2 linked regions of the Homo sapiens genome follow. The protein of the gene in region 2 interacts with the protein of the main gene of each other region in a biochemical or structural test. Each region holds a gene or a part of one and is shown on either strand. Other genes may lie near its edges.

Evidence for each region. Proteins that work in one complex are often made in the same cells at the same time.
Region 1: the proteins of ACOT13 (region 2) and PCTP form a complex in vitro, tested with the Homo sapiens proteins (one study listed by BioGRID).

Annotation. Positions count from the first base shown.
Region 1 is NC_000017.11:55,754,051-55,761,050, reverse strand, and holds part of PCTP (phosphatidylcholine transfer protein), read right to left. Parts: exon of another isoform or gene 6,963-7,000; intron 1-6,962. UniProt on the Homo sapiens protein: Catalyzes the transfer of phosphatidylcholine between membranes. Binds a single lipid molecule.
Region 2 is NC_000006.12:24,669,246-24,678,013, forward strand, and holds part of ACOT13 (acyl-coenzyme A thioesterase 13), read left to right. Parts: exon of another isoform or gene 1-693; intron 694-1,403; exon of another isoform or gene 1,404-8,768. UniProt on the Homo sapiens protein: Catalyzes the hydrolysis of acyl-CoAs into free fatty acids and coenzyme A (CoASH), regulating their respective intracellular levels. Has acyl-CoA thioesterase activity towards medium (C12) and long-chain (C18) fatty acyl-CoA substrates.

The DNA.
Region 1 (7,000 bases), on a different chromosome or scaffold from region 2:
TACAATGTCTCCTTATTTAGCTGTATTTTCTCTGCATGTCATTCCCAAATCATTGTTCCAGACCACAAACTAATGATAAAGATAAAGAAGACCCATCACACAGGATCTTAGAGCAGGAAGGGGTCTTAGCTTAGCTGTGTAATGTGAGTGACTTGCCAAGAGTCAGCTGATGACGCTGTTGGTGGCAAAGCCTGGATGGGAACCCTTTCCTTCCCTAAGCCAGTACTCCTGCTCCAGGCCACCCAGAACGGACCTCCCACTGAGATGCTCCCCTGAGTCCCTAAGCCTGGTGTGTTTGCCCAACAGGCCTCCAAAGGGCCAGAAGAAGTATTTTTTTTTAGATGCTGCTTCTGAAGGGTTCAGAAAGGAACCAGGAGAAAGGCAGGTATAGAGAAAGATGAATATTATCACTTTCAACAGATGAGGTACTGTGCCAAGTTTTTCCATATACTATTCCAAAGTGCTGTCTCATAAATCAGAAAAGCTAGTCAGAAAAGACAGTGTGGTGGTAATAGCATGGGCTCAGATTCACCGTCTGGGTAGAATCTAACCTCTTCCACTACTAACCTGCAAAATGGGTCTAATAAGTTTCTACTTCATGGAATGATTATGAGGATTAAACTAGATAATCCATCTAAAGTTCTATTATGTGGTGCACATAATAAGTACTTAGTAAATATTAGATATCATTCCCATTAATAAGGTAGGTTACTATTTCATTAACAAGGTAGGTACGATAATCTCCTTTTTCCAGATTAAAGAACTGGGATTCAGAACTGTAATGTACATTTTCAGGAAAACCAATATCTACAGTGAACCTGCTCTAAGCCAGGCTGGGCTTAATCATGAATACTTGCAATAATCCTGTGATGTAAGCATCATTAACTCCACTTTATAAGTGAAGAAATGGAGGCTGGAGACAGGGGAATGCATGGCCAGGAAATCTGTTACTGTTATCACTAATTTTTGAGATGCTATCGTGCTGGCTAACTTGTCGAAACATTAAACTGGTATATTTCTCAGCAATGGTGATTCAAATGCGTGAAAAAAAACATCTGTGCAATTTGTTTTCAATTATATTTACAAGGTTAAAGTATTCTGAGAAATATTATTGTCAACAGTACACTTATTTGTCCCAAACAGAATAAACTCTGAAAGAGATGCTATGCATTTACATATGAGATGTGTCAAAATGTCGTAATGTTTGCAAATGACACTTGCAATCCCCACACAGGAGTAATCTCCTGTAGATGTCCCATCACCCATCCAGGCCTGGAGAAAGGCACCACTCATTACCTCCAATTTATGGTGTTTATCTGAATTTACACCACTAACTACAAGGTGGTCTTGATAAATCACATATTCTCAAATCCTGTGAATGCACTCATGAGTGTGCATTGAGTTCTCTTTGCCTCTCACAGAAGCGCTCATTTCCATTCCTCAGAGGGACAGGAAACACCCCCAATCTATTTATCTAAAAGCTGTCCAAGTCCATCCACTTTGGGGCAAGTAATAGACTCAGATGGTATGAAAAATAAGTATTTTTCATCAAAGTAAAGCAGTTCTAATGGCAGAAGTCAAAGCTGCAGCTGCTGCTGGGAAGTATGTGCCAAGACTCTACAAAGACAGATAGTTGGCTAAATCTGATTTAATATTTAAGACCTCTCTAAGAAAATGTGATAGGTCTAATCCTTCAGGGTTGCACACAGCTAGGTAAAACAATACTCATAGCTGATGTTTACTGAGTATTAACTGAACAGCAGGCACTGATCCAAGTGCTTTTACATGGATTATCCCACTTAATCCAAATAATGATACGAGGTATGGACCATCAGTAAACCCACTTTTCAAACAGGAAAACTGAGGCTTAAAGATGTTCTGCAAAATGTCCAGAAAAGGCACATGTATAGAGACAAGAACCTCTATTCAGCATTGCCCCAGATTCACCTGCTGGTTCACTCCAGATGTTGGTATGGTATTATGTCCAAGCATTCAGAATGCCTATACCCTTCCCTACAAGTCATCTCTCTTCTCAAGGGATTCCCAAGGCTGAATGAAATATCAGTGTTTTGTTTTATTAATAGCCACCTCCTGTAATCGCCATACAGCAATCTGGTGAAAGACAGAGTGAGAGCATAAAGCTTGGCTTATACCTGGAGACAGAAGGGAGGCATCTTACTCCTTCCTCTCCCCTCCTTCCACCAAATCTGAACCTTGAGACCAGCATTCTCGCATGGCCTCATACCCACAGGCTTATCCTAAGACAGATGCGAGGAGAGGGAAAAACTGAGACTCTAACTTATCTACCCAGTTGCACACTCAAGGGAGACAGAAAAGAAGGAGCTGGCCTTGGTCTATGGTGGGAAGTAGAATGCCACAGACGGGTGTCCTGGAGACATGGTGGCTCTGCCCACAAGTAAATTTCAGCTCCATAAGTGACCAGGGCTCAAGAATGATTCTATCAATCACGCTGGTAATCAGAAGGATGACAGAAAGGAGCAGAACAGTTTTACAATCCTGAAGTAATGGGGCTCATGATGCTAATTGGCTTATTATCCCATCTGGGGAAATAGGAGTAGGGATTTCACATCTATAGAGTGAAATCTCTTCTCCTGTGAGATGGATCTGTGTTTCTCTCTAAAGGCCAAACTTTCTCTCAGCCCAGCCTGCCCAAATGCAGTTTTTCCAGTCATGCTGGTCTTTGAGAATTTTAGTAGGTCAAGAGCACAGGGAAGAACAGTCCCTGGGAAAGTACTGTCTGCTCCTCACCAAACTCTTTGATTAGAAGCCCTATTCAAGGACAAAAACACAATTTAGGCTGCCCCTTCTCACAGTGCCAGATATTTAGATTTAAAAACTTAATAAGTCAAGCCATCAGCCAGAGCTTTTCAGTCCAACATTTATTTTCTCTAAATTGAAGCTGTGAGCCTCTGCGCACTGGTTCCACACTCTATGGGCAGTGGTTAATGGCATGGTAACGAAGCCTGAAGTTCCTGCAAGGGCCTGACTTGCAGATCACTGGAAGAGCTTTTCTAAGTGACCCATGGCCCTTCTCTCAGGGAAACTTCTCAGCACTGCTCAGGGGACCACATTTACTCCCAAGTGACCACTAACTTAAACATCAGGGAGAGGGAGCCCTAAAATGGATGTTGCTTTTGTCTTAAGACATTTTTTGGTCTCACTTTCATCTTTCAATTTCCATTGCATCTCATCTCTAGGGTATTCTCCTGCCTCTGACTTTAGCTCTCAATGTCAGAACTGCCTCAGCACCATGCTAGATGCTCCCCATCCACCAGTGGTTCTCAAAGTGTGATTCCCGGACCAGTAGCCTCAGCATCATTCAGCAGCTGGTTAGAAATATAATGCATAAAAAAGAAGAGTATCTATCTATCTATCTATACACATACATACATGAACATAGAACTTATTCATTGATGAGAACGTGGATCACATTCATTGATGAGTGTGATTAGTATATATACACACACACATATACATGTGTATATATTCATATATACTATATGTGTGTGTATATATATACACATATAGTATTTTCCACATATATATATACATACGTGTGTGTGTGTGTGTGTGTGTGTGTGTCTCAGTTTCCTCATTTGCAAAACCAGGATACTACTTACCTTTCAGAGTTGTTGAGACGATTGAATGAAATGATACATGGCAGAATGGTTCTCAAACTTCAGTGTGTATTAGAATCTCAAACTTGAGCATGCATTGAGTGTGCATTAGAATATATATGCACACACACACATGCTTGTGTATATACACATATATGTGTATATATGTATACATGTATATATGTGTATATATATACATATATACACACACAAGCATGTGTGTGTATATATATTCTAATGCACACTCAATGCATGCTTTTGTGTGTGTACATATATATATCCAAATGCACACTCAATGCATGCTCAAATTTGAGATTCCAATACACACTCAAGTTTGAGAACAATTCTGCCATGTTATCATTTCGTTCAATCCTCTCAACAACCCTGAAAGGTAAGTATTATCCAGGTTTTGCAAATGAGGAAACTGAGATTTCAAAATGAAAAAGTAACTGATCAATATCACCTGGCCAGTAAGTAGGGCCTGGCCCCTGGCCACTCTTCAATCTCATATCCACTCCAGTCCTGTGGGCCTCCTGGCTCCTCCTGGAAAATGAGGCAAGCTCAGCCTGGCTGAGGGACTAGAACCCAGTGTTCCCTCTATCTCAGTGGCTTAAAAGCCAGCATGTTCATATGAATCTCCTGAGAAGCCTAAATATATATATACATATATACACACACACACACACACACACACACATTCATAATACACACACACACACGTGTATAAAACGGTTTTATTATGAAAGATTTCAAACATACACGAAAGTAGAGAGGACAAAATAATTAACCCCTATGTGAAGGGGGAGCCTCTCAAAAGGACCACCAAAGCCCCACCCTAGACCAGTTAAACCTGAATCCCTAAGGTAGGGCTTGGTATGGTTTGTAAAGCTGTCTCGAGTGATTCCAATGTGCTTGAACTTTGAGAAACACTCTCAGATTCATTTCTCCTCCAGATATTTGCATTATTCAAATCGGCCAAATGTTACTTCCACAGAGGGCCTTTCTGGACTCCCTTATCTGAAACACATCACATCACCCCTGGCTACCCTGCCATGCCATCTCTCTATCCTTTTATCTCGCTTTATTTTCTTTATAACATTTTCTTTAAAGTACTTTATAGCATTTTCCACTGGACATTTCATCATATACTATGGGCTTATTCTCATCAATGAATATGATCCATGTTCAAGAAGCTCATTCATTGAAGCAGCAGCACCATGTTCCTTCTTCACCACTTATCCCCAGGGTCTATGAAGACAGTAGCACATGGGAGGCAGTTGATGAATATCTCCCAAATGCTTAAATGAATGATAGAGGAACAGAGCTGAGACTCTCACACAGGACTATCTGACTCCAAAATCCATGCTTTTCCCACAATACCCATGGCAGCCCTGGTCTAGTTTTGCTTTAGCCTCCGGAAACAGAATGTAGTTCTTGTATGGAAGCAAGTTGTGTATTTGGTACTGAGTTTATCATAGTAGACTGTTCACATTAGTTATTAGTTATGAGGTCTCATGTGGCTCGCTCAACAACTCTGGATCTTATTTCCATTTGTAAAGTAAGCCCATTTTTGCCTATCTTCCACATCTCTTTAGAAGGATAAGTGAAAACTTATATGACAGCATTTATAATTTGCAGCATCAAATAAAGTTATTATCATTACAACATGGAGAAGAAATAAGAGAGGAAGGAAATAGAGTAGGCAAAGAAAGAAGAAGTAGAGGAAAAAGATAATGGTGTTGGACAGCATGGCTTAGAAGAAACTTTCCAGTCCAGAATTTTGTGATTTAAGAGAAAAATAGAAAACAAAAAAAAATTATCAAAAGCTGTACATCAAAATTGCCCACTTGTCCAAGAACAGGATTCAGAATAATTTGTGTCTACTAAAAAAAAGGACACAATTCTATTATTTTTATTTCAAAATACAATTTGCTACATTGAAATCTCTTTCAAGAGCCTCTACTCTTCTTTCAGTCTTTTAAAAACATGTAACAGTAACTTTGTTACAGCATCATTTAAATCATGGTCACAATTTTCTTTTTCTCTATTCTTGTTTCAAATCTTGCTCAAGAGCCCCAAGAAGCCACATAGCTTTGGCCTTAGGTTGGCCACCTCTATGCTGAGTGTGGGAAGCAAAGTGAAGGGTCGTCACAACCAGCTCGTACCACACAGTGGCAAGCATGCTATGCACAATCGGGTCCTTAAAGGACCATCAGTCCAACCGACGCCCATAACTTCATAACTAAGCCACTAGAATCTTCAGGGGAGCAACTCTATCTCAGATCCATTTCCATAGATGGAAATCTGACCCATTGCAGATCCTCAATAAAGGCTCAATGAAGTATATAAACAAATTGTCTCTGGTCTCCTTTCTGAATACAGTACTTGTGATATTATGAGCTATATATACAAAATGTATACATATACATACATATGTATATGTGTGTATATAAATATATAATTTACATATGTGTGTATACATATGTGTGGCGGCGTGTGTGTATTGGACATAGAGTATACACACACACCCACATACATACTCCAGTACTGTACATCCAATACACACACGCGCGCACACAGGTTTCTATCCACTGTTCCTGGTTCATAACTCTCATAGCCCTCGTTACAGTCTTTTGTACGTTGGTGCACTTTAGGCCTCAGGAGTTGAGCCAAGAGTTGCAAGAACTTCATTCCAGGGAGGGTCCTGCCTCATACCCTGGAAGAAGGAATGTCGCATGGAGAGGCCAGAAGAATCTGGACAGGCCTTCTTGGGTTTCCCCAATCAGTCTATTAATATGAGATCAGACCCTTTCTGTCCAGTCATATTTCAACACTGTTGTCCATGCTTCAATCATGCCTAGCCAATGAAGTTTCCATAAAGGACCCAAGAGGAGGGGGTTCAGAGAGTTTCTGGATAGCTGAACTCATAGAGGTTCCTGGAGGGTGATGCATCCAAGGAGGGCATGGAAGTTCCAAGATCCTTCCCCCATATCTCATCTTATGCATCTGTATACTTTGTAGTATCCTTTATAATAAACCAGTAAATGAAAGCAAGTGTTTCCCTGAGTTCTGTCAGCCTCTCTAGTAAATTAATTGAATCCAAGGAGGGGGTCATGGGATCCCCTATTTACAGCCAGTTGGTCAGAAGCACAGGTAAAACAACCTGGGGCTTTCAACTGGCATTACAAGTGGCAGGGAAGAGGGGGTTAATCTTGTGGGACTGGGACCTCAACCTACGGGATCTGACACTATTTCCAGGTAGGTAGTGTCAACACTGAACAGGAGGACACCTAGCTGACGTCCACCGCAAAACTGACTGCTTACTTGGTGTTTGGAGAGAAATCCTCAGACATTTGGTCACA
Region 2 (8,768 bases):
TATAAGACATCAATCAATATATGTAAAATGAACACTGGTTGGGTTCGGAAAGGCGGGACAACTTGAAGCGGGAAGGGGGCTTCCAGGTCACGGGTAGGTGGGAGACAAATGGTTGCATTCTTTTGAGTTTCTGATTTACCTTTCCTAAGGAGGCAGTCAGATACACATTTATCTCAATGAGCAGAGGGATGACTTTGAATAGAATGGGAGGCAAGTTTGTCTTAAGTAGTTCCTAGCTTGAATTTTCCTTTTAACTTAGTGATTTGGGGGCCCAAGATATTTTCCTTTACATTTGCCCCCTTTTCTTTTTTTTAAAAAAAATTTTTTTTTGGAGAAAGCATTTTAGAAGAAAAATGAGTCTTTGGTCCCAGATTTCATCTGATCGCTCATGCTAGGATGGTTTATTCCTAGACAGGTAAGTCCCAAGTTATTAGGAAAGCTAATTTTTAGAAGGCTGTGAACTCCCATGTCTTGTGAAGAGAAAATAGGGGGAGGAAGGGTGAAAAACAACAAACAAAAGAACAATCCTGGAAAATATACATAGGCCACGTTATTCTGAAGTCCATACATCAGTAGGCAGGTATGAAAGTGGCTTATGCGTGTAAATAGGTTGCTGTTATTTTCTTCTGAAGTTTAAGTTGTCTAGCTTCAGTTTGCAGGGCTTTACAAAAGCACAGCTGTTTTCAGTGACTCCTAATTAGGAAAAAAAAGGAAAAGAAAAGAAAAAAATTAAAAATATTATTTTGGAGACTTGTAGCCAGGAAAAATTAGAATTCAGCCTAAACTGTAGAAAATAATAAAAATTGAAAAAATTAGGCAAGACTAGTATCTAACAACAAGTGGACTGTAAGTTTTGAAACAATTTTTCTCTCTCCAGTTTTCCATTTTTACTAAAGACAAATCATGGTAGGACTGATTTGCTTTATTATATTTGACCAGATTATTTATATAAAGTGTAGCAAGAATAATTATTTTTCACATAGGCTTTTTAAAATTGGCTTTGAAGGAACTTTGTTCCATAGAAGGAATCTCAGATAAGATTCTTTTTAAAGCCAAGCTCAGCCATGGATTTGTACCATCAAATACCTATGAGTAGGGTGAATTTCCTCTTTTTGATGTTCCATGATAAACCAGGGGCTCCTGGACCTGTCAGAAAATGACATTCTTTACTTAGCACATATCAGAAACCCTGTACAGGGACTTTGTAAAGTGTGAGGCCAGTTTTCCCAAGGGCTTTTATTGGCTCCATAAGTCAGGTTTGATTACTTAAAGGAAAGTACACCTTTCCACTCAAAGCCTTGGTAAAATAATCAGTTTCTCCAACTGTGTCCTGTTACAAATGAAAACAGATTCTTACTGCACTTATGCAAATAACTGTATTGGCACAAGTTAAGAATACTCACAAATAGTTTACAAATTCTGGAGAAATCAGGTAGAGAGAAACAAATATGCTCCAAATTTTGTTGATTGGAGTATACTAAATTGTTAAAAGCTGTCAATAGCTCAAAAGAAAAGTTTCAAGGCTCTGAAAAACAAAGCAAAAGATCAGCAATGTTTAAGCAAAAAGTCAAAAAGATTAGTTCAGTCCCCTTAGTTAATTCCTATTCTGCTTGATATTCATGAGCATTTTAGCTCTCCATGAGTTCTGAAAGTTTTTCCTCTATTCTCATGTAACAATCTCCAAAGTTAATGGAGACCTGCATTCAAGAGGAAACAACAGGTGCTGGAGAGGATGTGGAGGAATAGTTACGTTTTTACACTGTTGGTGGGAGTGTAAACTAGGTCAACCATTGTGGAAGACACTGTGGTGATTCCTCAAGGATCTAGAACTAGAAATACCATTTGACCCAGCCATCCCATTACTGGGTATATACCCAAAGGATTATAAATCATGCTACGATAAAGACACATGCACATGTATGTTTATTGCAGCACTATTCACCATAGCAAAGACTTGGAACCAACCCAAATGTCCATCAATGATAGACTGGATTAAGAAAAAATGACACATATACACGATGGAATACTATGCAGCCATAAAAAAGGATGAGTTCATGTCCTTTGTAGGGACATGGATGAAGCTGGAAACCATCATTCTCAGCAAACTATCACAAGGACAGAAAACCAAATACCGCATGTTCTCACTCATAGTTGGGAATTGAACAATGAGAACATTTGGACACAGGGCAGGGAACATCACACACTGGGGCCTGTCGTGGGGTGGGGGGATGGGGGAGGGATAGCACTAGGAGAAATACCTAATGTAAATGACGAATTAATGGGTGCAGCAAACCAACATGGCACATGTATACATATGTAACAAAACTGCACGTTGTGCACATGTACCCTAGAACTTAAAGTATAATTTAAAAAAACAAATTTAACAAAGAAAACATTATCAAGAATAAATAATGAATCTCAAAAAACAACAACAGCAACAACAAAAAAAAACACTTTCTAAAGAGGACCAAAACAACACAACAATTGTGCGTGGATGACTAAAAGTTTTAGGGCAGCCATAGGCAAAGACACAATTGACAAGGAAATTTGATACCTCTCCTCTGTAGCACACAATAATTTTAACGTAACAATTATGATTATTACTGATAATGTACACTAGGTCATATCAGAATTACAGGAATTTCCCATAATTTTGGAACACATACCAATAACATATTTATACAAATACATCTCAAAGAAAGCCAAACACTGTTGCATATTTGACAATGCTTCCTGTGTAATTTTTGTACCAAATAAGCCAAATTATGCCATTTTTGGACTTCAGGGAATCTAATATCTTAAAGGACTAATTAGGTCAGAAAAAGACATAATTTATAATTTGATTTTGGAAAGTTTGTCAAATATCAAATGTTTAAAACACCTGATATCACAAAAATAGGATCACAGGTCATTATAAAATAAATCATTCATTTAACCAAAGTGATAACTCAAGGATTTCATAAAAAGGTGAAAACCTTCATTCTTTGAGAGAGGGGACTTAACTTTCCAAACAATAAGCCCTAATAAAAACAGCATGAAGCTAATTAAATTTGTTTTCAAAATTTTATAAACAATCTATAAAATTTTAAACTTGACCATAAGATATAATTTCTAACTGGGCGTGGTGGCTCACGCCTATAATCCCAGCACTTTGGGAGGCCGAGGTGGGCAGATCAGGAGGTCAGGAGATCAAGACCATCCTGGCCAACATGGTGAAACCCCTTCTCTACTAAAAATACAAAAATTAGCTGAGTGTGGTGGCACGCGTCTGTAGTCCCAGCTACTCGGGAGGCTGAGGCAGGAGAATCGCTTGAAGCCAGGAGGCGGAGGTTACAGTGAGCTGAGATTGAGCCACTGCAGTTCCAGCCTGGGTGACAGGGCGAGACTCCATCTCAAAAAAAGAAAAGAAAACAAAAGATATAACTTCCATAAGCCTTTATAACCTTTATTAAGGAGTCAGTTAATGTGTCAAGAAAACCTTGTTAATCTGATTACAGGGGCCCATAAGCTGATCTTGCATCATTGTGCCTTTGACGTTAATCATTAATTTATAGAGAAACTGAACTTATTTTATCTTTCAAATTTGGACCTTACAGTCTTACCTGCCCACCTCTTCTTCGATAGTCTCTGGGCCTTGAGGAGTTGAATGCCTTTAATTTCTGGCCGTGTATCTCAGGAATGCAGTTTATTTTGATTGGCGTCTTCTACGGGGCCTGAAGATGACAGCTTCAATTGCTGTCAGTGTTTAAGATTTAGTAGGACTTGGTGTCCTTTTTAGACCCAGGAGTCAAAGCCCTGTAACCTAAGGTCACAAGGACTTTAAAAGCACATACAGGAAAATACCCAGTTGTAATCATGTTAATTAAAAAATCTTTTTTTAATCTCAGTTTTTTCCTAAACATAGGAATTATTTCAACAAAATGTAAACTCTGTTAGGTCAGTTACCAAAAAGCAAAAGAAAAGACCTTCTGCAATGCACAGAACATGATGTTGGAAGAAAACACTTCCTTTAGACCTTTAAGACAGTGTGCCTTTTTAAAGGGGAGAGAAAGCTGAAAAAAAATGGCAAGATGCAATAAAAATTGAACTTTCAGTTTTAAAAAAAAATTAAATTCTCTTATAATTTTTTTTTTGAAATAGAGTCTCGCACTGTTGCCCAGTTTGGAGTGCACTGGTGCAATCTTGGCTCACTGCAGCCTCTGCCTCTTGGGTTCAAGCAATTCTTGTGCCTCAGCCTGCCAAGTAGCTGGGACTACAGGCACATGCCACCAGGCCTGGCTAATTTTTGTATTTTTGTTAGAGACGAGGTGTCACTACGTTGGCCGGGCTAGTCTACAACTCCTGACCTCAAGTGATCCACCTGTCTTGGCCTCCCAAAGTGCTGGGATTACAGGCAGAAGCCACCATTCGTAGGCAAATTCTCTTATAATTTATTAAGAGTAAGTTAACCCCTTAAGAAAAGTTTATTTTTCTAACCAATAATTTCGTGTATATGTGTCTTTTTTAACATGAAGCCCAGTCTCTAGAAAGAGCATTATAATTTCCTTTTAATTGTAAACATGATCATATACAATTTTTTTAAAACAAATCCTCTTATTGTGACATACACAGACCATTCATGACATGCTTGAACTTTTATCTTAGGACTAAATTTACCATACAGTATTCTTTCTCATGTAAAATTATTTCTAAGCTTTCTTACCACATACAAAAAAAATTTGTTTTATAACTTCCTTTACAACATCTCTCTTATTTCCTGATTCCTTTACCTTGTTGTATACATAACCTTTAAATAAGTTTTGTGGGGTTTTTTTTGTTTGTTTGTTTTTTATCTGAGACAGAGTCTTGCTCTGGCACCCAGGCTGGAAGGCAATGGCCCGATCTTGGCTCACTGCAACCTCCACCTCCTGGGTTCAAGTGATTCTCCTGCCTCAGCCTCTCGAGTCGCTGGGATTACACGTGCACCACAATGCCCAACTAATTTTATATTTATAGTAGGGACAGGGTTTCACCATGTTGATCAAGCTGGTCTTGAACTGACTTCAAGTGATCTGCATGCCACGGCCTCCCAAAGTGCTGGGATTGCAGGCATGAGCCGCTGCCCCTGGCCTAAATAAGCTTTGAATTAGACAAAACTTGTTCACCGTTTTTGGGGGGTTTTGTTTGTTTTTTTGTTTTTTTGAGATAGAGTCTCATTCTGTCACCCAGGCTGGAGTGCAGTTGCGTGATTTCAGCTGAGTGCAGCGTCTGCTTCCTGTGTTCAAGTTATTCTCCTGCGTCAGCCTCCTGAGTAGGTGGGATTACAGGCGCCTGCCACCACGCCTGGCTAATTTTCATTTTTTGTATATTTAGTAGAGACAGGGTTTCACCATGTTGGCCAAGCTAGTCTCAAACTCCTGACCTCAAGTGATCTGACTGCCTTGGCCTCCCAAAATGCTGGGATTACAGGCATGAGTCAGTGCACCCAGCCCTAGAGTTCAACTGTTTTTTTATTTTCTTATTATACTTTAAGTTCTAGGGTACATGTGTGCAACGTGCAGGTTTGTTACATATGTATACATGTGCCATGTTGGTGTGCTGCACCCATTAACTCATCATTTACATTAGGTATATCTCCTAATGCTATCCCTCCCCCCTCCCCCCACCCCACGACAGGCCCCGGTGTGTGATGTTCCCCACCCTGTGTCCAAGTGTTCTCATTGTTCAGTTCCCATCTATGAGTGAGAACATGTGGTGTTTGGTTTTCTTTCCTTGAAATAGTTTGCTGAGAATGATGGTTTCCAGCTTCATCCGTGTCCCTACAAAGGACATGAACTCATCCTTTTTTATGGCTGCATAGTATTCCATGGTATATATGTGCCACATTTTCTTATTCCAGTCTATCATTCATGGACATTTGTGTTGGTTCCAAGTCTTTGCTATGGTGAATAGTGCTGCAGTAAACATACATGTGCATGTGTCTTTACAGCAGCATGATTTATAATCCTTTGGGTATATACCCAGTAATGGGATGGCTGGGTCAAATGGTATTTCTAGGTGTAGATCCTTGAGGAATTGCCAGTGTCTTCTACAATGGTTGAACTAGTTTACAGTCCCACCAACAGTGTAAAAGTGTTCCTATTTCTCCACATCCTGTCCAGCACCTGTTGTTTCCTGACTTTTTAATGATCACCATTCTAACTGGTGTGAGATGGTATCTCATTGTGGTTTTGATTTGCATTTCTCTGATGGCCAGTGATGAAGAGCATTTTTTCATGTATCTGTTGGCTGCATAAATGTCTTATTTTGAGAAGTGTCTGTTCATATCCTTTGCCCACTTTTCGATGGGGTTGTTTGATTTTTTCTTGTAAATTTGTTTAAGTTCTTTGTAGATTCTGGATATTAGCCCTTTGTCAGTTGGGTAGATTGTAAAAATTTTCTCCCATCCTGTAGGTTGCCTGTTCACTCTAATGGTAGTTTCTTTTGCTGTGCAGAAGCTCTTTAGTTTAATTAGCTCCCATTTGTCAATTTTGGCTTTTGTTGCCATTGCTTTTGGTGTTTTAGACATGAAGTCTTTGCCTATGCCCTGAATGGTATTGTCTAGGTTTTCTTCTAGGGTTTTTATGGTTTTAAGCCTAACATTTAAGTCTTTAATCCATCTTGAATTAAGTTTTGTGTAAGGTGTAAGGAAGGGATCCAGTTTCAGCTTTCTACATATGGCTAACCTGTTTTCCCAGCACCATTTATTAAAAGGGAATCCTTTCCCCATTTCTTGTTTTTGTCAGGTTTGTCAAAGATGAGATGGTTGTAGATGTGTGGTATTATTTCTGAGGGCTCTGTTCTGTTCCATTGGTCTATATCTCTGTTTTGGTACCAGTACCATGCTGTTTTGGTTACTGTAGCCTTGTAGTATAGTTTGAAGTCAGGTAGCGTGATGCCTCTCCAGCTTTGTTCTTTTGGCTTAGGATTGTCTTGGCAATGCAGGCTCTTTTTTGGTTCCATATGAACTTTAAAGTAGTTTTTTCCAATTCTGTGAAGAAAGTCATTGGTAGCTTGATGGGGATGGCATTGAATCTATAAATTACCTTGGGCAGTATGGCCATTTTCACGATATTGATTCTTCCTATCCATGAGCATGGAATGTTCTTCCATTTGTTTGTGTCCTCTTTTATTTCGTTGAGCAGTGGTTTGTAGTTCTCCTTGAAGAGGTCCTTCACATCCCTTGTAAGTTGGATTCCTAGGTATTTTATTCTCTTTGAAGCAATTGTGAATGGGAGTTCACTCATGATTTGGCTGTTTGTCTGTTATTGGTGTATAGGAATGCTTGTGATTTTTGCACATTGATTTTGTATCCTGAGACTTTGCTGAAGTTGCTTATCCGCTTAAGGAGATTTTGGGCTGAGATGATGGGGTTTTCTAAATATACAATCATGTCATCTACAAACAGGGACAATTATAGAAGGACTGGGGGTCCTTCTATAAGCATTTCTAATAGAGGGTCCTGCCTTGCCGCTCTTTTGGCTTCAATATCCGCTTGGCAGTTCCTTTCTGTTTCCCTTTCCTTTCTGGTGACTCTGGCAGTGTAAGACTGCCACCTCTTTAGGTTTCTGTACAGCCAATAGTAATCTCCTAATGGCTTCCTGATGTTTGATAGGTGTTCCCTCGGAAGTTAGGAATTCCCCTCTCTCCATATTGCTGCATGGGCATGGAGGACTAGGTAAGCGTACTTAGAGTCTGTATATATATTTACCCTTTTCCCTTCTCCTAATTCTAGTGCCCGAGTGAGGGCTATTAGTTCTGCATGCTGAGCACTAGTTCCTGGAGTGAGGGGATTAGTTTCAAGTATTCCATTATCACTGACCACTGCATACCCCGCTTTTCAAAGTCCTTTTTCTGCAAAGGAACTTCCATCAGTATACAAGTTGAGGTTGGGATCAGTCAAGGGAACCCCTAAAAGGTCCCCTTGAGCAGCATTAGGTTTGAGCAATCACATGTTGGCATTTATGTTCTATCTTTTCTTCATTGTCTGGAAGAAATGTGGCTGTGTTAAGAGTTGCACAAGTGCGCAGTCACACCACTGGCCCATCAAGTAATAGAGCCTGATATTTAAGTAAACGGTTGTCTGACAGCCACAAGTCTCCTTTAGCAGTGAGTATGCCATTCACATCATGAGATGTTCACACAGTAAGATCTCTTCCCTGTATTACTTTAACTGCTTCAGATACTAAGACTGCTACTGTTGCCACTACCCGTAAACAATGAGGCCAACCCTTTGCCAGTACATCAATTTCCTTACTCAGGTATGCCACAGGTTGCAAGCTGGTCCCTCGGACCTGTATAAGGACTCCTAGAGCTATTCCTGTTTCTTTTGCGACATATAAAGAAAAGTCTTGCCCCATTGGCAAGCTTACCACTGGGGCTTGGGTTAGGGCCTTCTTTAGGGCCTGAAAAGCCACTTCTGCTTCAGGTGTCCATCTTACTAAATGGGTATTGGCTTTCTGAGTTTCCTTAGTGTGTATAATGGCCTGACTATTTCGCTGTACCTGGGAATCCATATTCGGCAGAAGCTTGTTATGCCAAGGAACCCTCTTAGTTGCTTTAGGGTTTTGGGATGAGGATAAGCCAGTATAGGCTGGATACGTTCCTCACTGAGGGCCCTTGTGCCTTTGGATAATTTTAGCCCTAAGTTTTTAACCTGCTGTGAGCAGAGCTGAGCATTTTGTTTGGAAACCTTGTAGCCACAGGTAGCAAGGAAATTTAAGAGTGCTTGGGTGGCTTGATGGCACCAG